Linked DNA regions of Homo sapiens. The protein of the gene in region 4 purifies or fractionates together with the protein of the main gene of each other region. This does not show direct contact. Each region holds a gene or a part of one and is shown on either strand. Other genes may lie near its edges.

Evidence for each region.
Region 1: the proteins of LPAR4 (region 4) and FASTKD1 purify together in Homo sapiens (affinity purification with mass spectrometry; 2 studies listed by BioGRID and IntAct, with this or other methods). This does not show direct contact.
Region 2: the proteins of LPAR4 (region 4) and PPTC7 purify together in Homo sapiens (affinity purification with mass spectrometry; 2 studies listed by BioGRID and IntAct, with this or other methods). This does not show direct contact.
Region 3: the proteins of LPAR4 (region 4) and ARFGEF3 purify together in Homo sapiens (affinity purification with mass spectrometry; 2 studies listed by BioGRID and IntAct, with this or other methods). This does not show direct contact.
Region 5: the proteins of LPAR4 (region 4) and ARHGEF40 purify together in Homo sapiens (affinity purification with mass spectrometry; 2 studies listed by BioGRID and IntAct, with this or other methods). This does not show direct contact.
Region 6: the proteins of LPAR4 (region 4) and BTAF1 purify together in Homo sapiens (affinity purification with mass spectrometry; 2 studies listed by BioGRID and IntAct, with this or other methods). This does not show direct contact.
Region 7: the proteins of LPAR4 (region 4) and ATL3 purify together in Homo sapiens (affinity purification with mass spectrometry; 2 studies listed by BioGRID and IntAct, with this or other methods). This does not show direct contact.

The regions. Positions count from the first base shown.
Region 1 is NC_000002.12:169,563,866-169,567,365, forward strand, and holds part of FASTKD1 (FAST kinase domain-containing protein 1, mitochondrial), read right to left. Parts: intron 1-3,500. UniProt on the Homo sapiens protein: Involved in the down-regulation of mitochondrial MT-ND3 mRNA levels which leads to decreased respiratory complex I abundance and activity.
Region 2 is NC_000012.12:110,545,319-110,548,818, reverse strand, and holds part of PPTC7 (protein phosphatase PTC7 homolog), read left to right. Parts: intron 1-2,740; coding exon 2,741-2,939; intron 2,940-3,500. UniProt on the Homo sapiens protein: Protein phosphatase that plays an essential role in mitochondrial metabolism and biogenesis. Positively regulates biosynthesis of the ubiquinone, coenzyme Q. Dephosphorylates the ubiquinone biosynthesis protein COQ7 which is likely to lead to its activation.
Region 3 is NC_000006.12:138,164,939-138,168,438, forward strand, and holds part of ARFGEF3 (brefeldin A-inhibited guanine nucleotide-exchange protein 3), read left to right. Parts: intron 1-3,500. UniProt on the Homo sapiens protein: Participates in the regulation of systemic glucose homeostasis, where it negatively regulates insulin granule biogenesis in pancreatic islet beta cells. Also regulates glucagon granule production in pancreatic alpha cells.
Region 4 is NC_000023.11:78,746,562-78,750,519, reverse strand, and holds the start of LPAR4 (lysophosphatidic acid receptor 4), read right to left. Parts: upstream 2,801-3,958; 5' UTR 2,486-2,800; exon of another isoform or gene 2,334-2,485; intron 1,620-2,333; exon of another isoform or gene 347-1,619; 5' UTR 297-346; exon of another isoform or gene 1-296. UniProt on the Homo sapiens protein: Receptor for lysophosphatidic acid (LPA), a mediator of diverse cellular activities. Transduces a signal by increasing the intracellular calcium ions and by stimulating adenylyl cyclase activity.
Region 5 is NC_000014.9:21,073,304-21,076,803, forward strand, and holds part of ARHGEF40 (rho guanine nucleotide exchange factor 40), read left to right. Parts: intron 1-628; coding exon 629-1,877; intron 1,878-2,028; coding exon 2,029-2,196; intron 2,197-2,319; exon of another isoform or gene 2,320-2,341; coding exon 2,342-2,462; intron 2,463-3,056; coding exon 3,057-3,153; intron 3,154-3,232; exon of another isoform or gene 3,233-3,259; coding exon 3,260-3,340; intron 3,341-3,470; coding exon 3,471-3,500. UniProt on the Homo sapiens protein: May act as a guanine nucleotide exchange factor (GEF).
Region 6 is NC_000010.11:91,986,270-91,989,769, reverse strand, and holds part of BTAF1 (TATA-binding protein-associated factor 172), read right to left. Parts: intron 617-3,500; coding exon 190-616; intron 1-189. UniProt on the Homo sapiens protein: Regulates transcription in association with TATA binding protein (TBP). Removes TBP from the TATA box in an ATP-dependent manner.
Region 7 is NC_000011.10:63,623,587-63,626,376, forward strand, and holds the end of ATL3 (atlastin-3), read right to left. Parts: 3' UTR 501-2,790; downstream 1-500. UniProt on the Homo sapiens protein: Atlastin-3 (ATL3) is a membrane-anchored GTPase that mediates the GTP-dependent fusion of endoplasmic reticulum (ER) membranes, maintaining the continuous ER network. It facilitates the formation of three-way junctions where ER tubules intersect.

The DNA.
Region 1 (3,500 bases), on a different chromosome or scaffold from region 4:
TACAATAGAATAAAATTATGGAATCATACAACATAATGGATAAATCCTTAAAACATACTGAGCAAACTAAACTATAAGGGTACATACTATAGGATTCCATTTCTATAGAAACAATTTATGGTGTTAGAGGTCAAGATCCTTTTTGGGTGAGAGGACTAGAAGAGAACATGAAAAGAACTAATGATGTTGTTTCCTTATCTTGGTGCTGTTACATAGCAATGATCAGTATATTAAAATTCATCATGCTGTATGCTTATGACTAGTATAATTTTTATACATTATTTTTCTGTAAAGTTTATTTAAAAAGAAACAAAAAAATTTAAGAGACACAGTAATTGTGAACCTTACTCAGAAACTGATTTAAATAAACTGCCTATAAAAAGACCTTTATAAGACAATCAACAAAATTTGAACACAGACAAGGTACTAGGTAATATCGAAAATTTAAATTTATCAATTTTATTATGTTTTTAAGACACAGTGTCTCACTGTGTTGCCCAGGCTGAACTTGAACATCTAGGCTCAAGTGATCCTCCAACCTCAGCATTTTTATTAAAATTAAAAAAAAAATTTTTTTTGTGGGTACATAGTAGGTACATATATTTATGGGGTACATGAGATATTTTGATACAAGCATGCAACGCAAAATAAACACATCATGAAAAATGGAGTATCCATTCCCTCAGGCATTTATCCTTTGAGTTACAAACAATCCAATTACGTTCTAAGTTACTTTAAAATGTATAATTAAGTTATTATTGACTATAGTCACCCTGTTGTGCTGTCAAATAGTAGGTCTTATTCATTTTATTTTTTTTTACCCATTAACCATCCCCACCTCCCCCACAATCGCCCGTTACCCTTCCCAGCCTCTGGTAACCATCGTTCTGCTCTCTACGTCCATTAGTTCAATTGTTTTGATTTTTAGCTCCCACAAATGAGTGAAAGCATGCGACGTTTATCTTTCTGTGCCTGGCTTATTTCACTTAACATAATAATCTCCAGTTCCACCCATGTTGCAAATGACAGGATATCATTTTTTTTACGGCTGAATATTACCCCATTGTGTATATATACCACATTTTTCTTTTTTTTTTTTTTTTTTGAGACGCAGTTTCGCTCTTGTTGCCCCAGGCTGGAGTGCAATGGCGCGATCTCGGTTCACTGCAACCTCCGCCTCCCAGGTTCAAACAATTCTCCTGCCTCAGCCTCCCGAGTAGCTGGGATTACAGGCATGCACCACCATGCCCAGCTAATTTTGTATTTTTAGTAGAGACAGGGTTTCTCCATGTTGAGGCTGGTCTCGAACTCCTGACCTCAGGTAATCAGCCCGCCTCGGCCTCCGAAAGTGCTGGGATTACAGGCGTGAGCCACCACACCAGGCTTTTTTTTTTTTTTTTTTTTTTTTTTTTTTTGAGAGGGAGTCTCGCTCTGTCACCCAGGCTGGAGTGCAGTGGCGCGATCTCGGCTCACTGTAAGCTCCGCCTCCCGAGTTCACGCCATTCTCCTGCTTCAGCCTCAGGAGTAGCTGGGACTATAGGCGCCCGCCACCACGCCCGGCTAACTTTTTGTATTTTTAGTAGAGACGGAGTTTCACCTTGTTAGCCAGGATGGTCTCGATCTCCTGACCTCATGATCCGCCCGCCTTGTCCTCCCAAAGTGCTGGGATTACAGGCGTGAGCCACCGCGCCCAGCCACCACATTTTCTTTATCCATTCATCTGTTGATGGACACTTATGTTGCTTTCAAATCTTAGCTATTGTATACAGTGCTGCAATAAACGTAAGAGTACAGATATCTCTTCAATATATTGATTTCCTGTCTTTTGGGTATATACCCAGGCAGTGGGATTACTGGATCACATGCTAGCTCAATTTTTAGTTTTTGGGGGAACCTCCAAACTGTTCTCCATAGAGCTTATACTAATTTACATTCCCAAAAACAGTGTGCAGGGTTCCCTTTTCTCCACATCCTTGCCAGCATTTGTTATGGCATGTCTTTTGGATATAAGCCATTTTAACTGTGGTGAGATGATGTCTCATTGTAGTTTTGATTTGCATTTTTCTGATGTTGCACCTTTTCATATGCCTGTTTGCCATTTGCACGGGTCTTTTGAGAAATCTCTACTCAAATCTTTTGCCCATTTTTTGATTGGATTATTAGACTTTTTCCTAATTAGAGTTGTTTGAGCTCCTTATATATTCTGGTTATTAATCCCTTGTCAGATGGGTAGTTTGCCAATATTTTCTACCCTTCTGTGTACTCTCGCTTCACTTTGTTGATTGTATCCTTTGCTGTGCCACCTCAGCCTTCTGAGTAGCTGAAACTACAAGCGTGTGCCACCACGCCCAGCTGGTTCTATATTTTTAAAAAGTCCTTAGAGAAACATACTGAGGTATTTAAAGATGAAATGATATTATTTAAAATATACTGAAGTATACTGAGAGTGGGAGGGGATATAGATAAAACAAGACTGGCTATGTGTTGACAATTGTTGAAGCTGGAGGATGGGTACATGGGAATTCGTTGTACTACTCTTTCTCCTTTTGTAAATGTTAAAAATATTCTATAATAGAAAGTTTTTTAAAAAAAATTTGGATTTCTTGGGAGGCCAAGGTAGGAGGATTCCTTGAGCCCAGGAGTTCAAGACCAACCTGGCAACATGGCGAAATCCCATCTCTACTAAAAATATAAAAATTAGCTGGGCGTGGTGGCATCCACCTGTGGTCCCAGAAACTTGGGAGGCTGAGATAGGACGATGGCTTGAGCCTGGAAGTCTGAGGCTGCAGTGAGCCCTGGTTGTACCACTGTACTCCACCCTGGGTAACAGAGCCAAACCCTATCCCAAAAGAAAAAAATATATATGGATTTCAAATACATGTTAATTATCCTTGCCATGATTCATCATATAGTACTAATCCAGAATAATCTACCCCATTTAAATCATTACAAATTATATTTATAAAACAGGCTGGGCACAGTGGCTCACACCTGTAATCCCAGCACTTTGGGAGGCCAAGGTGGGCAGATCACGAGGTCAGGAGTTTGAGACCAGCCTGGCCAATATGGTGAAACCCTGTCTCTACTAAAAATACAAAAATTAGCTAGGTGTGGTGGCAGGTGCCTGTAGTCCCAGCTACTTGGGAGGTTGAGGCAGGACAATCACTTGAACCCAGGAGGCGGAGCTTGCAGTGAGCTGAGATCACACCACTACGCTCCCGCCTGGGCAACAGAGCGAGACTCTGTCTCAAAAAAAAAAAAACATAAGTTTATAGATATTTTAGCAAGATCATTGTACTTCTGAGTTATTTTGAAATAAAGAAAAATTTAAAAGAAATGCTTGATTCACTATAAAATACAATCATACATGTAATTTAATTAATACAGTAATTATAAAACACAAAAGACCACCTATTTTACAAGTGATTTGTTCAAGCTGCATAATACACATAACGTATCCTTGCTTTGAAGAGAAATAAAATGTTGTGACCTATTATCAA
Region 2 (3,500 bases), on a different chromosome or scaffold from region 4:
TTGGTGCTGCTTTGGATACTGAAGCTCAGTCACTCACCAGGACTGTTTTGATTCCAACTCAGCGAGTTACTGTCGCAGGGTAGCAAAGGATAGCCTGGCTTCGTCAGTGAGTATATAAGGAGTCACATGAGTCCTTCTTGCAGCAGAATTTTCAAGGATGTGCTACTCGGGTTGTTTTTCTTTCTCAGAATATAATCCCATGAGTTTTCAGAAGATGTTTTGGGTGGTGATCTATTAATGATAAAAGGTTAGAGTTGATGTGCACTGAGTTAGGAAGGAAAGGTAATGGGCAATCTTTGTCCTACTGTAAGCTATGGAGCGGGTTATCTGACAGCACTACCAGTGAGTTACAGTACCCGTGCTTTGCTTTTCGTTGACACTTAATGGCTAGCATAGTATGAGTTAGTACTAACGCATATACTGTAGATAACAAGGAAATGGAATTTCTGGGCATTAGCATGAGAAAGACATGTATATTTTTAAGTGTTTTTAAATTACTTTGTTAGGACAAAATTAATAATAAAAATTACCCATGATCCCACTAAAACAACTATTAATATTTGAGTGATTATGCTTTCAGATTTTTTTTCTGTGTGTATGTGTGCATAGAATAATGGTAACTTGAATTGAGTCTACTATGTGCCCACAACAGCCCCATGAGGTAAATACATAGGTACTTAATTTTATTCCCCTCCACCTTTTTTTTTTTTTTGAGACAGAGTCTTGCACTGTTGCCCATGCTAGAGTGCAGTGGTGCAATCTCAGCTCACTGAAACCTCTGCCCCCCGGGTTCAAACAATTCTTGTGCCCCAGCCTCCGAAGTAGCTGGGATTACAGGTGTGCACCACCACGTCCAGCTAATTTTTTGTGTTTTTAGTAGAGAGGGGATTTCACCATGTTGGCCAGGCTTAGTCTCGAACTCCTGGCCTCAAGTGATCCACCCGCCTCAGCCTCTCAAAGTGCTGGGATTACAGGCATGACCCACCACGCCTGAACTATTCTCCATTTTGTTAGGAAGAAACAAGTCTGGAGAGAATAAGTGACTTGCCATGGTCACATAGCTGGAAAATGATGGCACACTGGGATTTAATATGGCTGGTTCCGTGGCCCATTTGTGTTGTTTTCCTTTTAACCATCATTTTAATAATTTAGACTTTGCCTATTGCTTTTTTAAAAAAATTGACTTCTAGTAAACTTTACTCTTTTTGGTGTACAGTTCTTTAGGTTTTGACATCATCTTTTTTTGTTGTTGTTAAGGAAACTTTCATATGAGTTTGTAATCTACTTATTTTATAGTTATCTTTCCTTTCAAATATATTTTACATAATCTTAATGGCTATAAAATAGCCAACACTATCTGTTATAAGGGTTTGACATGACTTAACTAATTTTAATTCTTAGAAAAATTCTATGAGGTACTTACTGTTATCCCTGTTTTTGTGGATGAGGAAACTGGGGCACAGAGAGGTTAAGTAGTTTGCCCCATCACAGAGCTGGGAAGTGGCAGAGCTGGGATTCAGACACAGGCAGGAAGCAGGCTGACTCCAGAGCCTGTACTCCTGAGTATTACGTGATGGTGTATCTTTGCACTGTATGGATGTACTGTAATTTATTTAACCAGTCCCTTATTTTAGATGTTTAGATTGTTTCCAGTTCTTTCTCATCTTAAGTAATATTTTTGTACTTAAGTCTTGTTTGCCCTTCTAATTATTTTCTTAGCGTAAATTCTCAGAGATGGAATTGCTAGATGAAAGGAGGTACATTTTTCCGGGCTATCTTGCGCTCCAGGAAAGTTGTTTACTTTTACTTTTCACTCCCGCAGAATGAATGTTCTGTGCAGTGGGCATGTTCCCTACACTTTGCCAACAATATGCATTATCTTCTTTTGACTCGTGTTAAACTAATAGGTGAAAAGCGTTACTAGTGAGGTGGTCATTTTTTCATATATTTACAGATCATCTACACTTATTTCTTTGTGAACTGCCTGTTTTTCTATGTTGCCATTTTTCTGGTGGCGGTAGGTAGGTTTAACTGTTAGTACTTGAGAGTGGTCTCTGCTAGTTGTGCCATTAGCCTTTCAGTCTAGGGAAGATTCTGTGGCCCGTGCACAGCAAAGCTATGCAGAGTTCTTTGCCCAGAGTCTCTGTCGAATGAACAGGTTGATTCCACAAGCTGCCTGCAGAAATTTGGTCTTGTTACCTCATAGTGAGTGAGTCATTAGTCTCCAATAAAAGTTCTTCCTGACCTCAACAGATGGAAATCTGGTTTAAAATTGTAGTTATGTGCCCTGTCTTAAATGTGAGTGAATTTTGTGGCCAATGACTAATAAGAAATGTCGGGAAAATGTAACATTTTCATTCTGGCATTGAAGTATTAAAACTTAATATCTCAACAACATGTTTTTGAGCATTTGGCATAGATGACAGCACTGTTGAAATGAAATAGTGTGATTAAATACCAGTCATTTTTATTGCTTTCTGTCAATGCAAATGGAAGAATTCAGATCATCTGTGGCCCAATTACTATGTATAATACAAATCCTTTTTCTTTCCCCACCGTGTTAACCCTGATCAGGATTTTATTGATATTCGTAGAGGATGTGGAGCATAACTAAGAAAGGTCCTGTTTAGGCAAAGGAGATTGAAATTATGGTGTGTTGCTCTGTGGGGTCATGTGTTAAAATGTGTGTGCAAAGGCAGCCTAGGAAGAAAAAATAAATGGAGATGATTTTTGTTTCTAGGTAGCAGCACCGCCTGCATTGTGGTGCTGGACAGAACCAGCCACCGCTTACACACAGCAAACCTGGGCGATTCAGGCTTCCTGGTTGTCAGGGGTGGTGAAGTCGTGCACCGATCAGATGAGCAGCAGCATTACTTCAACACTCCATTCCAGCTCTCAATCGCTCCCCCTGAAGCCGAGGGAGTCGTCTTGAGCGACAGGTAATCTCCCCTCTCAGCCATTAAGTGTGAGCAGGACGTGGCTCATTCATAGTCCCCTCCTGTCCCCCTTGAGTGCAGTGAGGTAGGCATTTCCATGAAAAGAATACACTGAGAATGTTCTCATCAAGAGGACCTTTTAGTTTAACTTTGAAAGATACTTTTCTGGAACTAGATAATCTAGCTAAGTGGAATTCTGATAAATACCCAATAATTTGACAAGACCATGAAAATACTATTTCAGGCTTACAGAATATCAATTTTTCATATCAACACCACATGGTACATACAGTACTTTATTAAATTGTGCTGGAGAAATGAGTCATTGTTCATGCATGCCATTGCTTGTACAAGATTTTGCATACATTGTTAGGGAAGAGCACAAACAGACATCTGCGTTATTTATTGGAGTAACTTCCTGATTCTCTAGACCTCTTACTACATGCATCAAATAGAACTTGCAGGAAATGGAGTCAAAATGGTCTTAAGTGACTGGGCACGGTGACTCACGCCTGTAATCCCAGGACTTTGGGAGGCTGAGGCGGGTGGATCACTTGAGGCCAG
Region 3 (3,500 bases), on a different chromosome or scaffold from region 4:
CCTCTCACGTAGACCCTCATGAGAGAGGGGTCATCCCCCACTTAGACCCTCATAGGAGCAAGGGGCCATCCCCTACTTAGACCATCATGGGAGAGAGGGGTCATCCTCACTTAGACCCTCATGGGAGAGAGGAAGCATCCCCCACTGAGACCCTCCTAGGAGAGAGAGGTCATCCCCCTCTGAGACCCTCATGAGAGAGAGGGGGCATCCCCGTCTGAGACCCTCATGAGAGAGAGAGGGCATCCCCCTCTGAGACCATTGTGCGAGACAGGGGTCATCCCCCACTTAGACCCTCATGGGAGAGAGGGGATATCCCCCTCTGAGACCCTCATGGGAGAGAGATCATCCTTGATTTAGACCCTCATAAGAGAGAGGGGCATCCGACACTGAGACCCTTGTGAGAGACAGGGATCATCCCCCTCTGAGACCCTCATAGGAGCAAGGGGTCATCCCCTACTTAGACCATCATGGGAGAGAGGGGTCATCCTCACTTAGACGCTCATGGGAGAGAGGGTCATTCCCCACTGAGACCCTCATGGGAGAGAGGGGGTCATCCCCCTCTGAGACCCACATGGGGGAGAGGGGCATCTCCCTCTGAGACCCTCATGAGAGAGAGGGGTCATCCCTCACTGAGACTGAGACCCTTATGGGAGGGAGGAGTCATTCCCCACTGAGACCCTCATGGGAGAGAGGGGTCATTTTCCTCTGAGACCCTCATGGGAGAGGGGTCATCCCTTACTTAGACCCTCAGGAGAGAGAGGGTCACTCCCCACTGAGACACTCATGAGAGACTGAGACTGAGACCCCCATAGGAGAGAGGGTCATCCGACTCTGAGACCCTCAAAGGAGAGAGGCATCATTCCTCACTCAGATCATTTTGAGATAGGTGATCATCACCATATTTAGACCATATCAAGAAAGCTGGACTTCTCCAGTCACTCCTGCCTGATCCTTGGTTTCCCTTGTTCTCTTTGTCCTGATGGTTCATGAGTGTATCCTTGAACCAGTCCTCTAGTCAAAGAATGAAGTAGAATAACTGGTTTAGGCCTAGGCTACAAGTTCCACTGAAATCCAGAGCTGGGGAAAAATGGCTTCCTGGAAGTAAAATTAAGATGCTTCTTCAAAAGCCAGGGGAATGGATACTCGTCAATCAAAACAATACATGTCAGCAGAGTAGTGAGCTCTTTAGCACAGGGACTGCCGTTTATGCTTCTTTGGTTGCTTCTGCACCTATAGTGGAAGGCAGATGTTCAATAAGTAAATCAATACTTTAACTACTTGTTTGAGTTTTAAATAATATTCATCTTTTTCTATTTATAAGAGTTATATATGTTCACTTTAGAATGTTGCAAATAATGGAACAACATAAAGAAAAAATTAAAATAATCTTCAGTCTCCCTATCCGGAGATAACACTGTTGACATTTTGGAGTCTTTCCCTTTGCAAAAGGTCATACCGCATATGGCATATTGTCATGTGTTTTTTAACTTTAGCATCTTCTTCTACTCTGTCTACTTTGTCATGACACTTCTCTGAAAATCAGTGTTAATGGCTGCAGAATAACTAATAAGGCATATGTATGTATCTTCTCTTTATTTAGTGTTATCTGGTTGGTTGTTTTTGTTAGTGAGGAATGGCGTGGCCAGGGAGTAGAAAGGAATGAATTGGATGAAGGGTTGGCTTGGGGAAAGGCAGAAAGAACTTCAGAAACTGGCAGTCCTGGGGGCTTGCAAGCTAGGCTGTGGTGGGATGAAATAGAATTGCAGAACAGGAGAGCTGGAAGCAACCAAGCCCTACTTTTAGTATTTTATATCTATCAGGGGCCTTATACAGAATGAATGTGGAAAATGGAGGAGCGGGGAAAGAAACTAGAGGTACGAAGGCCAAGTAGGGGAAGAGGGAACATCTATCCAACCAGCACCCTTCTCTCTATCTACCCATCTGCTTTTTCTTCCAGCCACAGGTGATTACTTCACAGCCAAACTTCTTAAAAAGTGTAGAAATTGTATCTGTGTTCTCACCTTCTACTCTGTCTTCATCTTTTTGTCATCTGCCTTTCACCTCCATCATCCCACCAACTCACAGTTACTGAAGAACAGTAACATACAGCCATTCGGCTGGCAGACCATTCTCATTCCCATCTCAGAGGTCCTCCTGGTGACACTGGACACAACTGGGCACCTGCTTTACCTTGACTTCTATGATCACACCCTACCAGCTCCATCTTGGTTCTTGAGCCATTCTGTCTCCTTTGCTAGTGCCAGATTCTGTCCCCAGCTGTAAATATTTGAGTTTCTCAAGGGTTAGCTTTGAGCCCTCATCTCTTACTCCCAGCTCTTCTGGAGTTGAACACACACATACCCACAGCTTCAGCTCCATTTCTGAGAATGTGATGCCCGTGTTTATATCACTAGTCGACACCAGTGCTCTGAAACGCACACCCCGCAACTTAGCTACCTGCTGAACATCTCCACCTGAATGGCTTGCAGGCACTCAGCTCAACAAGGCTCAAAGTGACTGTGTGTTCTTCCCCACCTCTACCTCACTGCCCAACCTCACTCACCTCTGGTGTTTCTAAATGATCAGTTGATGTCATCACCTGTCCAGTTGCATTGACCTGAAATCTAGAGTCATCCTTGATACATTTCTGTAATTTGCCATCTTACCTAGTCCGTCACCCAAGCTCTGCTCATTTTTACCTCCTAAATATATGTCAAGCCTGTTCACTTCTTTCTACCTCTGTTGCCAGCTCTCCAGAATAAGCTGCCTTCTCTTTTTATCTGAACTTCTGCAACACCCTCTTAACTGCTCCTTCCTTGTCTGCTCTAGTTCTTTTTCCCAAGTAGTGTCACCTTGGAAACCCCAATCTTTTCATGACATGCCATGTTAAAACACTGAATAGCATCCCATTAGGATAAAAACAAAAGTCCTTGGTGTGTTCTGTCCAGCCGTACATGGCCTGGCTCCTACCTGCCCCACAGCCTTGTGCTATGCCACCCTCATGAGACAGAGGGTCATCCCCCTCTGAGACCCTCATGAGAGAGAGGGGTCCTTGCTCTCTGAATTTCAGCCACACTGATCTTCTTTCAGTTACTCAGCTACACTGTGCTCCCTCTTACTTCATTAATTCAGCAAATATTTAGTGAGTACCTACTATGTGCCAGGTACTGTTCCAAGTGTTAGGGATAACATGGTGAGCAAAACATGCAAAAAGATCCAAGAGTTTACAGATTCTTGGAGAGATGACAGCCAGTAATCAAGATAAATAAATAAAATACACATGACAGCAAAGAGAGTGATAAGAGCTAAGAAAGGGAAAACATAAAATAGTGAAGAAGATAGGAGGTACTTGGAATAAAGAGGGAGTTGCCATTTAAATAGGGTATTCACGGAAAACCTTACTAAAAGGGAGGCTCCTAGTTGGGAAAACATCTGATGGCTTTGGGAAAGAGCAAGGAGCCAGGGGGCTGGAGCGACGGGAGAGAAGTAGGAAGTGAGGA
Region 4 (3,958 bases):
AATTCAAACTCTGCACAAAATATTTGTATAAAACCAGAAATACTCTGCGATGGAATTCTTAGGAGTAGCAACCGCATTTAGAATTTACCCATTACAGTGCTTCCATCTGTAAAGTAGAATCATCCCCTAGCTCCAAACGTACACTATTGTTACATCTCATCCTTTTCTAAACAGAGGTAGCCTAAAACAAAGCAAACTTCTAAATAGTATTACAACTCTCCTGAAATGATTTTTCTATAATCTAAAAAAACAAAATAAGTACAATGATTAGATAATTTAAGATACATTGAGATCACCTTAATATTAAGGAGAGTTGATTTTCACACTCCTCCAGAAATCTGTCTTCCTGGAATGAAATGAATATTTTATTCCATTTTATTGGTTTATCGTAAAGGAAAACAGAAGCATTAACATTATTTTATGCCTTTCACAGTTGATAACGATTATACAAAAAACCTTTTATTCAAAATCCAAGCAAATTAGGAAGTTCAAATACCCAGAAGTTTTTATAACTGATATTAATTAAATATAGACACATCCAGCCCCATCACGAGCTCTGTGAGAGCAAGTCACAGTCCATTTCTGAGTCTCAGTTTCTCTTCTCCTTTAATCTTCAGTCTTGACTGACAGAAAAGCAACCTTCAATGAGTGCCATGCTGGTGGCCTTACTGGCTGTTCTTTTCCATCATTTATTTTCACCTGCTTACATTGGCCACTGTAAAACATTTTTTATTTCCTCAAAGTCTGCAAGCAAGGAGGGTCATTAATTTTTATTAGACTTAATGAAATGATTGCTAGATTTATTTGAATATTAGAAATAAATAGTATTAATTAATACCGGAAGCTAAGAATCACAGAGAAAGATGCCACTAATATCCTAAAGTCTTCCAAATTCCCTTATTTTCCTCATCCTCTGTCCTTGTGCTCATTTCAGCAGGCATATCACCTCTAATTGTTTAGGTCTCAACCCTCAACCCTTCCCACCTGTTTCCTGGTCACTTCACCCCTCAGAATATGAGGTTATCGGCATATTTCAGGACATAACCATGTAGAATCATTAGATCATTTACCCGTTACATTGTTCTGATAACTGATTATTTATCCGCTTAAAGTAAAGGTGGATTCCCAGTGGTAGGTAACCTTTTATTGGGCTCCCAATTTTCAGTACTAATATTCGCAAACACATTACAGGTTTTGTTCTTCCCCCAACAAGAAGGCCAAGGGCAGACTATATGTGATGACCATATACACAGACAAAAGGTAGCTACACAATTAGGCGCTGAACAAACCACAGCAAGGGCAACAATTCTCACTGCATTTTCCCAAAAGGCAATTGAATAGATCAAGCTTTAGCTAAGCTTGGCCTGAATGTTTCTGTGAGGCATCTTCCTGGTTCTCCCTTTAACTTGCAGAGAGCACACATTCTGAAAGACTGGCCTGATTGTTCCAATAAGGCTTTCATTCCCATCTCTGATTGGCAGGAGAGACTTTAGAATGTAGATGCCATCAAGTTTATCAGGTGAACTCATCCTTCTTGGCAAGAGTGCAACTTTTCATCTGTGACAAGGCAAAAGGTTTTATAATCTATGTTGATGGGATATGATGTTGGGAATTTTGTTCTGAAAAATAAACGTGTTGCAAAGCCATTGGGTAATCTGGATCTCAGGTTATTATTATTGTCTTTATGTTAGTCAAGATAAAGAAAGATGGTATAATTTTGTAAGGTAGCAAAGTGAATAACCCCACCAAGCTCTGAAATATTCTAACCTTTGAATTTGTCTGGTCTTTTCCACACTGAAATAATGATAAATTACATTGCTGAATTTCCTTTTAAAAGGTAACTGAAATACTGTATTTAGCAACTCAATAAGACCTTTTTACTGAAAATATTTAAAATTTACAAGAAGAGAGTTTAAAGATGACACATTGATGCATTTGTATGGCAAACAGCAATTAATTTCACATATAATTGCAAATTCAGTTTATGACAGAGTTTTTCATTCAAACATGATTCTTCCTTTATGGGCAAGTTCATGAATTATTCAATATAGCAAATGTCACATTCTCCATAAATCAATTAAGCATCAAAGACATGTCATGTATAGTTTTACTAGAAGAAACCTCATCATAATACAAGCCACGTTAGCGCACAATAAACTGTAAACCAAAGAAATACAAAGCTAGTCGACATACTTTCTAAATTGTTCTACACTGTGATTTTAAATTAGCTCTTTAGAACAACTGTGTTTACATGAAACAGCAGCCTGAAAATCCTGTATGTCTTCCACGGAAACAATATTATTGCCAAAACAATGGAAATTCTCGTTTTTTACCATTCATCACGAAGATCCTTGTTCAGTACTTCAGAGTTGAAGTCTAACTTCTTTCCTTACACTCTCAAAGCATCAGTGTTTCCACTGTAGTTTGTTATGCTATCCCCCACCCCCAAACGCCAAAATCAAATCTTTTTAAAAGAGAAACTTACCCCAAGAAAGAGTGTGCTAGATGAGAGAATGTGCTGATGCCTGTAGATAATTAGCTAATAAACATGTAAATGGGCAACTCGCCCTTTGGAAGTGCATATTTTTATCCATTTTTTTTTTTTTTTTTTTTTTTTTTTTTTTACAGGGAAAGGTTAGCCCAGCCTAAAGTAGCAGACTCTGGGCTGCCGCAGCTTTTTACTGCAAACCGCTCATTCTGTAAATGTGAGCTTATTTACATTTATCTCTTTCCCTTTGTTAACGACTCCCTCTCTTGAATGCTGTAGCCCGCATGCCTTTAGCAAACAGGACACAAAAAGGCCTGAAGTCCGAGCTGGAGCCGACGGCCAGGGGAACTCTTGGGGGTCTCAATAGGAAATGCTTTTCATTGGCTAAGGAGGCATTATTAGGAGTCTAGATCCCGCCCAATTCCCTGTGCTCCATCGTTCCCTTAGTCACCAGTCACTGGACTGAATAAGTTTTTCCTTAAAGAGCATTGCCCAGGAAAAGCAGTTTCACAGTCAAGAATTAATGGCTTAAGTGCCACTTGACAATATAAAAAGTGTCTTTCCTGACCAATTAATCCACAGAGAAAGCCTGTGTGCCTGTCTTTGCCGCAGGACTGCAGAGGAGGAGACAACATTTCAAACAAGGAGGAGTGTTTCAATTATGCATACCATGTTCGCTCCTACTTGTTTAAAATAATTACAACAATATTGATAATAATAAGTAGGGGGCAAGGAAAAGGCAAAAATGAAAGGTACCATAAAAATATTCCTATCACACTGTGCAAAATTCAATCTCCCACCATCACAAAAATATAAAGTAAATTTTAATACTACACTCACTTAAGCCAGATAAGTGCCCTCAGATAGAGATGTACTAGGGTCCCAGAGCTCTGACACCCACCTTCCAAGGACTAGGGAGTGTTCTGTAGCAAAAGGAGGGTCTACACTTCTCAAGTAACTGCCTCGCAGTAAGTCTAATTACCATGAAAATTTCAGAGATTTGCTAAAATACAAAATAAATAGCACAGATGCAATCTATTTACAATAGAGAGTTATCTGCAACTGTATACCTCCGCCCACCTCCCCCATGGCAAGATTTTCTTTTCTAATTATCTACAGGTTTACTGCCTTGGTCACTCACAATTCTTTTTTTTTTTCCTCCCTATATTTTCCTCTTCACCTCCCTCTCCTTGATCTGATTTTGTGGCAGAAACCCACTCATCCATCTGTAACTTCATTGTTGGCCCTTCCCCTCTGCCAGCCCACCCCTGCAAGCCTTCTCTACTCTATCTCCACCCACTGCAAAAGCCACCAACAGCAGCCCCTCCCCCTCCTCTGGAATGAAATTCTCTGCCCAGGGATAAGGTGCTTTCTTTCTCTTGGCAGAGCAGAGCCCCTGGAGTCTTGGAGGATCCTCTATTTGCTTCAGAACTTCAGTTTGTGTAATTAAGCTGCCTCCCAAGTAGGGCA
Region 5 (3,500 bases), on a different chromosome or scaffold from region 4:
AGCCAGGCTGACTAATGCCCCCACTAACCTAGAGATACAGCCTCCCTTGAAACCGATCTCTCCAGAATCACTTAAGCTTCATTCTCTGACCTCTCACAAACTTTGACCTTCACAGGCACTGACCATTCAGATGCTAACACACACACACACACACACATTCATCTTCCCCAAATTCATCTTGACCCCAATACTGACCCCCAAAGACCCTAACTCTCCAGACCCAATTCCAGACATCTTCTCCCCCTCATATGAATTTCTCAAGACACTAACTCCCCCGTACATTAGTCAACAGAGATCATTCATTTCTACAGATATAAAGACTCCTAAGAGTCTTTAGCTTCTCCAAGACAATGGCATCTGCTGACCATGTCTTGGTAACGATTCAGTTCTTACCCTCCCACACATGGAACTAGCTTCCTGAAGAATCTTCCTACTACTGGGAGACCGATCAGTCCCAATCCCTTCCTCTCTGCCACCTGAATACCCCAAATCTCCCCTCCTGCTCTCCTGAGAGTATAACCTTCCAGGCATAAGGCTGGTCCTGCCTAGGGTGGGCCCATTCTAACTGCCCTCTCCTGCTGGTTTCTTCAGCAGAGGCCTGAGTGCAGCCTCCCACCTCTCTCCCCAGGCCCAATACAGTGGATTCCTCTTCTTCCATGAGGGGTGGCCGCTCTGCCTGCATGAACAGGTGGTGGTGCAGCTAGCAGCCCTACCCTGGCAACTGCTGCGCCCAGGAGACTTCTATCTGCAGGTGGTGCCCTCAGCTGCCCAAGCACCCCGACTAGCACTCAAGTGTCTGGCCCCTGGGGGTGGGCGGGTGCAGGAGGTTCCTGTGCCCAATGAGGCTTGTGCCTACCTATTCACACCTGAGTGGCTACAAGGCATCAACAAGGACCGGCCAACAGGTCGCCTCAGTACCTGCCTACTGTCTGCGCCCTCTGGGATTCAGCGGCTGCCCTGGGCTGAGCTCATCTGTCCACGATTTGTGCACAAAGAGGGCCTCATGGTTGGACATCAGCCAAGTACACTGCCCCCAGAACTGCCCTCTGGACCTCCAGGGCTTCCCAGCCCTCCACTTCCTGAGGAGGCGCTGGGTACCCGGAGTCCTGGGGATGGGCACAATGCCCCTGTGGAAGGACCTGAGGGCGAGTATGTGGAGCTGTTAGAGGTGACGCTGCCCGTGAGGGGGAGCCCAACAGATGCTGAAGGCTCCCCAGGCCTCTCCAGAGTCCGGACGGTACCCACCCGCAAGGGCGCTGGAGGGAAGGGCCGCCACCGGAGACACCGGGCGTGGATGCACCAGAAGGGCCTGGGGCCTCGGGGCCAGGATGGAGCACGCCCACCCGGCGAGGGGAGCAGCACCGGAGCCTCCCCTGAGTCTCCCCCAGGAGCTGAGGCTGTCCCAGAGGCAGCAGTCTTGGAGGTGTCTGAGCCCCCAGCAGAGGCTGTGGGAGAAGCCTCCGGATCTTGCCCCCTGAGGCCAGGGGAGCTTAGAGGAGGAGGAGGAGGAGGCCAGGGGGCTGAAGGACCACCTGGTACCCCTCGGAGAACAGGCAAAGGAAACAGAAGAAAGAAGCGAGCTGCAGGTCGAGGGGCTCTTAGCCGAGGAGGGGACAGTGCCCCACTGAGCCCTGGGGACAAGGAAGATGCCAGCCACCAAGAAGCCCTTGGCAATCTGCCCTCACCAAGTGAGCACAAGCTTCCAGAATGCCACCTGGTTAAGGAGGAATATGAAGGCTCAGGGAAGCCAGAATCTGAGCCAAAAGAGCTCAAAACAGCAGGCGAGAAAGAGCCTCAGCTCTCTGAAGCCTGTGGGCCTACAGAAGAGGGGGCCGGAGAGAGAGAGCTGGAGGGGCCAGGCCTGCTGTGTATGGCAGGTGAGATGACACGGAGTGAGGCTCATGGGGCAAGGGCCAAAGCAGGTCGGGCCTATGGGAGGGGGCAGGAGGAGGAGCAGGGTTAGGCTGGGAGCAGAACAACCAGAACCATCTTAACTTCAGTCCCATGTTTCTGTCTGTGTCTGTGCAGGACACACAGGCCCAGAAGGCCCCCTGTCTGACACTCCAACACCTCCGCTGGAGACTGTGCAGGAAGGAAAAGGGGACAACATTCCAGAAGAGGCCCTTGCAGTCTCCGTCTCTGATCACCCTGATGTAGCTTGGGACTTGATGGCATCTGGATTCCTCATCCTGACGGGTCAGTGGGCATCAGTGGGTGAAGGGAAACAGGACTGGGAAAGAGAAGCAATTGGGTGGGCTTGGGGACTGGGGGAGGCAGGGTGGAAAGGAGGTAGGCATGGACTGCTCCCAGCCAGGACAGCCTGGCCATTTTGTGTCTTCAGGAGGGGTGGACCAGAGTGGGCGAGCTCTGCTGACCATTACCCCACCGTGCCCTCCTGAGGAGCCCCCACCCTCCCGAGACACGCTGAACACAACTCTTCATTACCTCCACTCACTGCTCAGGTAACCGAGGCCCAGTCCTGGCACCCTGGACACTAACCTCCTGATTCATGAGGACCCTCACCTCCTTCTTCTCAGGACACTGACCTTCTGACCTCTAAGGACACCTACTTCTTCAACCTTCAGACTTCAAGCCATTGACCTTTGGCCTTACTTACCCTGACCTCCAGCTTCATATCTTCACTGATCTTCAAAAGCAACACTGTTGACTTTCACTCTCTTCCAACCCTACCAAGATCATCAGGACATTGGTTCACTGATTCAACAAACATTTATTGAGCACTGAGTACCTATTAGGCACCATACTACAGGCTGATATTGAATGCACGCCATTTCAGAACAGAATTCTTAATTTTCCAGACCTTAATCCCTTGACCTAGTAGCCATATGAATATAGACCCCTGACTGCTAGGTGACTTCCTCTTGTACACACACCCCAGAATTTGGCCCTTTGCCCATTTCTTCCCAAATGTACCGGCAACTAATTTCTCCTCAGGACTATTAACTAAAAACAGACCCCGTATGTCTGCCTTGCCTTATCTGCTATCCCCCAAAACACACACACAGCAGCCTCCTTGGCTCTTCCTGCTCCCGCAGGCCTGATCTACAGACACTGGGGCTGTCCGTCCTGCTGGACCTTCGTCAGGCACCTCCACTGCCTCCAGCACTCATTCCTGCCTTGAGCCAACTTCAGGTAACCACCCCTCAAACAGGCAGTTCCCCTGGATCCTAACTCTTCACCAGTGGCCAGTCCAGGACACCCGATTGCCCAGTTTAGGGTTATTCTTTTCTGCCCTTAGGACTCAGGAGATCCTCCCCTTGTTCAGCGGCTGCTGATTCTCATTCATGATGACCTTCCAACTGAACTCTGTGGATTTCAGGTTTGAGCCCTTCATTCCCATCTAGTTTCCCATCAGTAGTGGGGAGAGGAGAAGAGGCTGGCTGGAGCCCCAGGCTGGTTTCTGAGTCCTTGGGTGCCCAGGAAGAAACCCCCTGCCTTACCCTCTACAGGGTGCTGAGGTGCTGTCAGAGAATGATCTG
Region 6 (3,500 bases), on a different chromosome or scaffold from region 4:
GGGTTGTGACTGGTAAGTATTATGTGCAAATTCATGTAACAAAGAGTTTTGTTATAATCAAGCCTTTTCTCTCAGAATGGGAAAAAACACTAACATGAACTGGATTTGTGCTTAAATTATACCCATAAGTAAACAAAAACAAATTTAAAAGGTTATTTCTCTACCCCAAATAAAAGTTTAGGTATATACCTTTAGAATTTTCCTGGCCACTTTGTGTTGGTACTGGACATGTGACACAAGGAGTTAGATATGGGTCCACACAAAGTGAGCTACAGAGGTTTTTAATAATTTTTGAATTGGGACAGGGCGTCCTTGTTGTGCACTGCTGAAGGAGTTTAGCTATGCACTGAGCTGCATAGTTTTGCACTAGTGTATTCTCTTCTTTTTTAATTGTCTCCATTAATGGTTTTATGATAGGATTTAATTTCTCCGGAAGCTGCTGCAAGCTCACAACTGCACAGGCAGCAAAAGTATGCACTCTCAACTGCAACACTTGCCACTCCTGGTTGGTCTCTGTAACTGTCATTTGGACCTGCTGTCGTTTACTATCTAACTGTTGTAACACTTGAGGATTTAAATCGAAAGATGATGTGGCTTCATTAAAAACAGTAGTGACCTATTAAAAAAAAAAGAAATTAAAAATCATTAATCATATCAACCCCAAATAGACTGTAAGCTCCTAAAGGGTAGACAGCAAGCTTTCTGTTTCAATTTTGGTTTCCACAATATGTAATATTGTTTTAGTACTCAGTAAACTAATGTCTAAAACTTCCCAACTAAATTTTATTTTAATCTGACTAAAATTTAACATTAGCATTATATTCTTTAAGAAAGACATTCTCTTGAGAAGAATAAAATTATCTAACCTTTAAATATGTCTAAATGACTTTGAGGAAAATCACATTTAACACCCGCAGAATACTCTGGTGAAACAAGAAAGCTACAGGCAAATATAAACTAACTGTTCATGAAGGAATTCCAAAACTCACAAACTTCTTTTTGGGAAAAATATTCTTTTCAACTCTAAAACTCGTGAAAACTTAAGAGTGGCTGTTTACTAAGTGGCTAAGTGTTGCTAACTGAATCATTCTCTTTCTTTCTTTAACCTCCCTTCTGGTGGAAATGCCCAGGCAATGGAAGAAGGAAAAGAAACAAAACAAAACAAAACAGAACAGAACAAAATGGTGCAGTTATCATTCACTTAATTACCAAGAGCTATCTAAGGCTACAGGACTGTTGTACCAGACTACTTTGCAAGCCCCATTGAAAGACTGTTCAGTCAGTCTTTTTTTTAACAACTTTATTCAGATATAATTTGCATACCATAAAAACTACCCATTTGAAATGTACAATGTATAAGATTTATTTGAAACAGGGTTACAATGCTAAAAGTTTAAAAACATTGTCCTAAATCCACTATGCTCATGTCACTTTTCAATGACTGTAGACAACTGAGGAAAAGCCTCAGTTACCCCCAAATTAATTCAATCATTCAACCAATATTTATTAAAAGATAAATAAGATATAATGTCTTAATATGCTCAAAAAATGCAGAGACTAATGTGGGAGAGATATAAATAATTAAGAAAATGTAACATATAACTGAGGTAAGTGCAAGTTGCTGTGGGAATACAGAGCACTCCTTATTCCTTCTTAGAAGAAGAGATTAGTGGGAGACTTGTCAGAGGAGGATAACACTTATGCTTGGTTTTTAAAGAACAGGCCAATCAGGGATTATAGGGACATCTTGGCAAACAAAGTGAGGTAGGGAGTGGAAAACAGGACACTGTCTGTGGAATTGAAGTTTATCATAGCTTGAGCACAACACACAGAAAAAGAGATGAACTCTGGATAAGCACAGAGGGTTAGGGATGGGGAATTCCTGGCAAAGGAAATAGAAGCTCGGGCCCAGAAGTGAGAATGAGCAGAAGTGAATAAGTGTAGCGTACTTGCGCAAGAAGAAAGCTAACTGGGCGTGAGTGGAGAAAGTTTGAGAAATAATGAGGAGATAAGAGATAGAGCATTTAGAAGAAAGTGATGAAAAGAAGAAAGATAAAAATGAAAAAGCAAGGAAAAGGAAAATAATGTTTTTAAGCAGGAGAGGGATGTTCAGGGTGGCACAAAAAGAGCATTGCTAGTCTAGCACAACATGCAGAATGAAATGGACCAGAGGCTGCCTGGAGCCCTAGAGATGAGTCAGGACCTAGATATAAAGTACTAAGATCTGACTGGGCTCTGATAATGGAAATAGAGAAGAGATTAAACATGAGACTTTCTTTTTTTTTTTGAGACCAAGTCTCACTCTGTCACCCAGGCTGGAGCGCAGTGGCGTGATCTTGGTTCACTGCAAGCTCCGCCTCCTGGGTTCACGCCATTCTCCTGCTTCAGCCTCCCGAGTAGCTGGGACTACAGGCACCCACCACCACGCCCGGCTAATTTTTTGTATTTTTAACAGAGATGGGGTTTCACCATGTTAGCCAGGATGGTCTTGATCTCCTGACCTCATGATCCACCCACCTCGGCCTCCCAAAGTGCTGGGATTACAGGCGTGAGCCACTGCGCCCGGCCTAAACACATGAGACTTTCTGAAAGAAAATGCTGACAAGATTTGTGACTGGAATAAAAAGAGTATCTTTGTCAAAAAAAAAAAAAAAAAAGCCAGTTTTTGTTGTGTTCAGTGTGAAGTGACAGTGAGATATTTAAGTAAAAATGCCTAAAAGAAGAACGTAAGAAAGACTGAGAGTAGACAGCACACAGTACCTGGGTAGGAACTAAATCATGAGAATGGTGCAAGAGACAAAGATCGCAGGGAAATGTCTATATTTGGCAGGTAACAGGAAAACAGGGATTCAATGAAGATACAAAAGGCAGTGGCTCCTTTGAAAACTGCCCTTCCCTCAAAAGTCCCTTACAGAAAAAAAAAAGAAAAAAAGTCTCTCCCAGAGATTCTGATATTTATGCTTATCTTCTAGCCCAAGTCAAAACAACTGAAGAGTAAAAGATCTGAATAAGCAAATCTTAAAGAAGGGGCCATTTGATGAGCTTAAAAAAGGAAAGTTCCCAGAAATAGTAGGCAGGGAACCTAGACTATAAAGAAAATTTGAGATTTAATTCCAGACAGGCAAAAAAGTAGGGAGAGGAGGCAAAAAGGAAAACTTACAGAATAACAACACTCGGGAAAATAACTTTATAAAAGAAGAGAACCCAGGGGGAAAAAAAACAGCAATTTTAGCTTTCTCTCCACAGGTGAGAACAAAAAAATTCAACTATATTATTTTTCAACTAGAAATGGGGATAAGAAATGAAGATTACTATTTTCATGGGGACCAACACAAATGAAGTGACTCAATTTCTGATCCTATAACTCAAAAAAGGAAGAACTCATATATACTACACCTAATCTCATGCACTTACTAAGTACAAAGCTGCTGTAATGAAGCATGGATGCTGGCATAAGGAAAGACAAATACATTGAACAAATGGCCCAGATACACAGCATA
Region 7 (2,790 bases), on a different chromosome or scaffold from region 4:
TGCCTGGGTTTGTTTTTTGTTTTTTCCAGAGACGGGGTGGAAGGTGTCTCCATATGTTGCCCAAGCTGGTCTCAAAACTCTTGGGCTCAAGTGATCATCCTGCCTCAGCCTCCCGAGTAGCTAGGACTACAGGTGGGTGCCACTATGCACTTTTATTTTGTAGAGACAGAGGTGGAAAGTGTCTCCATATGTTGCCCAAGCTGGTCTCAAATTCCTGGGCTCAAGCATTTCTCCCACCTCAGCCTCCCAAAGTGCTGATTACAGGAGTGAGCCACGACACCTGGCCCTTGTGCTCACTTTTAAGCAACCCTGCCAACAATAGAGCCTTCTCCAGGACTATGCTAGTAAGACACTTGTTCAGTGTCGTTTTGTAGGACAGAGAAAGCTAACTCAAACCACATTGCCACTATCCCGTCAGAAGTCTTATTCACTTTGCCAAGCCAAACTATTTCACAGAACCTCCCATATTAAAAACACAGAGAAAGAAAACACAGATAACATGGTGTTGTGATCTTTATTCCATTAAATGATCTTACAAATTGGAGTAAAACAGAAACATGCTTTTAATATACTAATAGCATAATCTCATCCCATTGCACTTTTTAAAAACTATATTAAGTTTCAAAGCCACTCAAAGGCAAGGGTCTAGCAGACAGTACTTTTAACAAATCATTTTTTAAAATAAAAAAACCTGAGGAAAATTTGTGTATGTACAAGATTAGTATTAACTCCTTTAAGGCTTACATCCATGACAGCATGTATCTAATTAGAAAGCTATGGGAATCAATGCTACCTTCCCTTGCTCATAAAAACATTTAAACTGTAGTTCTGGCACACGAAATTTGCCCCAAAGAAAAATGTCTTTCAAAGCCCTTCTGTCCCTAGATCTGTTTTGCAAAGTTTCTGATATGGGGTACTTAGGTCACTAATGACAGGAATTAGGATCTTGTCTTCTTTCTTGTTCATTATTTTTATTTGTGGCTTAATGTTTCACCTGTATGTGAAAGATTTGGGGGTTCAAGTCACAGTGCTGAATTTTACTTTTTAAAAGAAAAACTATCAAAAATTGCTTTTAAAAAATCCTAATTACATTAGAAAATAGGATACCTGTACATTCATTTTTCAGAGAAGGCACTATGACAATGGAGAAAAACAGCTTTAAAGAGCTTAGATAATCCTCTGAATTAAAGGCATTCTTACTACTTCTGAACACAGAAAACGCCTGGGGATTGTACTGGCAAGAGACCACCTATTCTAAACCTCAGGTACAAAGTGTCCACTTGCCTCCAGACAATACTGAATTGTACTTTCTCCTTGGTACTTCCCATTCGATGAAGCAGTCTCTCTCTGTGGTCTCTGAACCACTATTTATAAAAGTGATGACTCCAGGACCACAGCCCATACCACCTGAGGCAATCCCTGGGTACAAAGCTAGGAATCTGAACTTTTTAAACAAGCCTGCTAGGTAAGTCTTATGCACTCCAAGGTAGATGAGAACCACTACCCTAAACATAGCTACAACAGGACTTACAGCAAGAAAAACCATTTGACTGCAAATATTATTTTACAATGGGCTTCTTAATGTCATTTTTAAAAATTAATCACACAAATAGTTTGTACTTTCATAACTGAAGCTTGTCTTCATTATGCCCTTATCCCTTGACTAGAATTTTGTTAAATAAAACATATGTAAGCCAGAATGACACAGCCATGTTGACAACTTGAGATGGAAGATCAAATCATCCTAAATTACATTTCAATAGTTCCAGGAAAGAAAAAAGTCCTGTGAAGACTTCCATGTAAGTTACATCATTTTTTAAAAGAACCTAGCAAAAAATTAAAAACTGTTTTATTAAAGTTTTAATTTTTAAAAAATTAAAAAATTAAAACTGTTTTATTGCTTTTGCATGGACTTGATTCAATCTACTTAATTTTGCTATAACTCATACATACATACATACTTATCCAAACTCACCCTATCCAAGGCACCATTTTACAAGCCAAGTAGAACACTGTGTGTGATCCACTAATGAAACCAACCACCAGTACAAGGCAGTATTTTTGTGTGTTTGACCAAAGCGCTTTACTTCATGTAAGAGAAAAAATAAAGCAAAACAAGGCCAGGTTCCAGTGGCTCACGCCTGTAATCCCAGCACCCTGGAAGGCCAAGACAGGCGGATTCCCAGAGGAGTTGAGACCAGCCTGGTCAACATGGCGAAGCCCTGTCTCTACTAAAAATACAAAAATAAGCCGGGTGTGGTGGCACATGCCTGTAATCCCTGCTACTTGGGAGGCTGAGGCAAAAGAATCACTTGAACCCAGGAGGCGGAGGTTGTAGTGAGCCAAGATTGCGCCACTGCACTTCAGCCTGGGTGACAGTACAAGAGTCCGTCTCAAAAAAAAAAAGGAATAAAGCGAAACACAGGCAATTTTACCAAGTATAAAAGAGGTGTTAAAACGTAAACTTCCATAGAACATTTCTTGGTATACTACGAAAATAAGGCATGACTCAGCTGGGCGGGGTGGCTCATGCCTGTAATCCCAGCACTTTGGGAGGCTGGGGGGAGTGGATCACCTGAGGTCAGGAGTTTGAGACCAGCCTGGCCAACATGGCAAAACCCCACCTCTAGTAAAAAAACAAAAATTAGCCAGGCGTGGTGGTGTACACCTGTAGTCCCAGCTACTCAGGAAGCTGAGACAGGAGAATCGCTTGAACCTGGGAGGTGGAGGTTGCAGTGAGCGAGATTGCACCACTGCACTCCAACCTGGGCGACAGAGCGAGACCTCTGT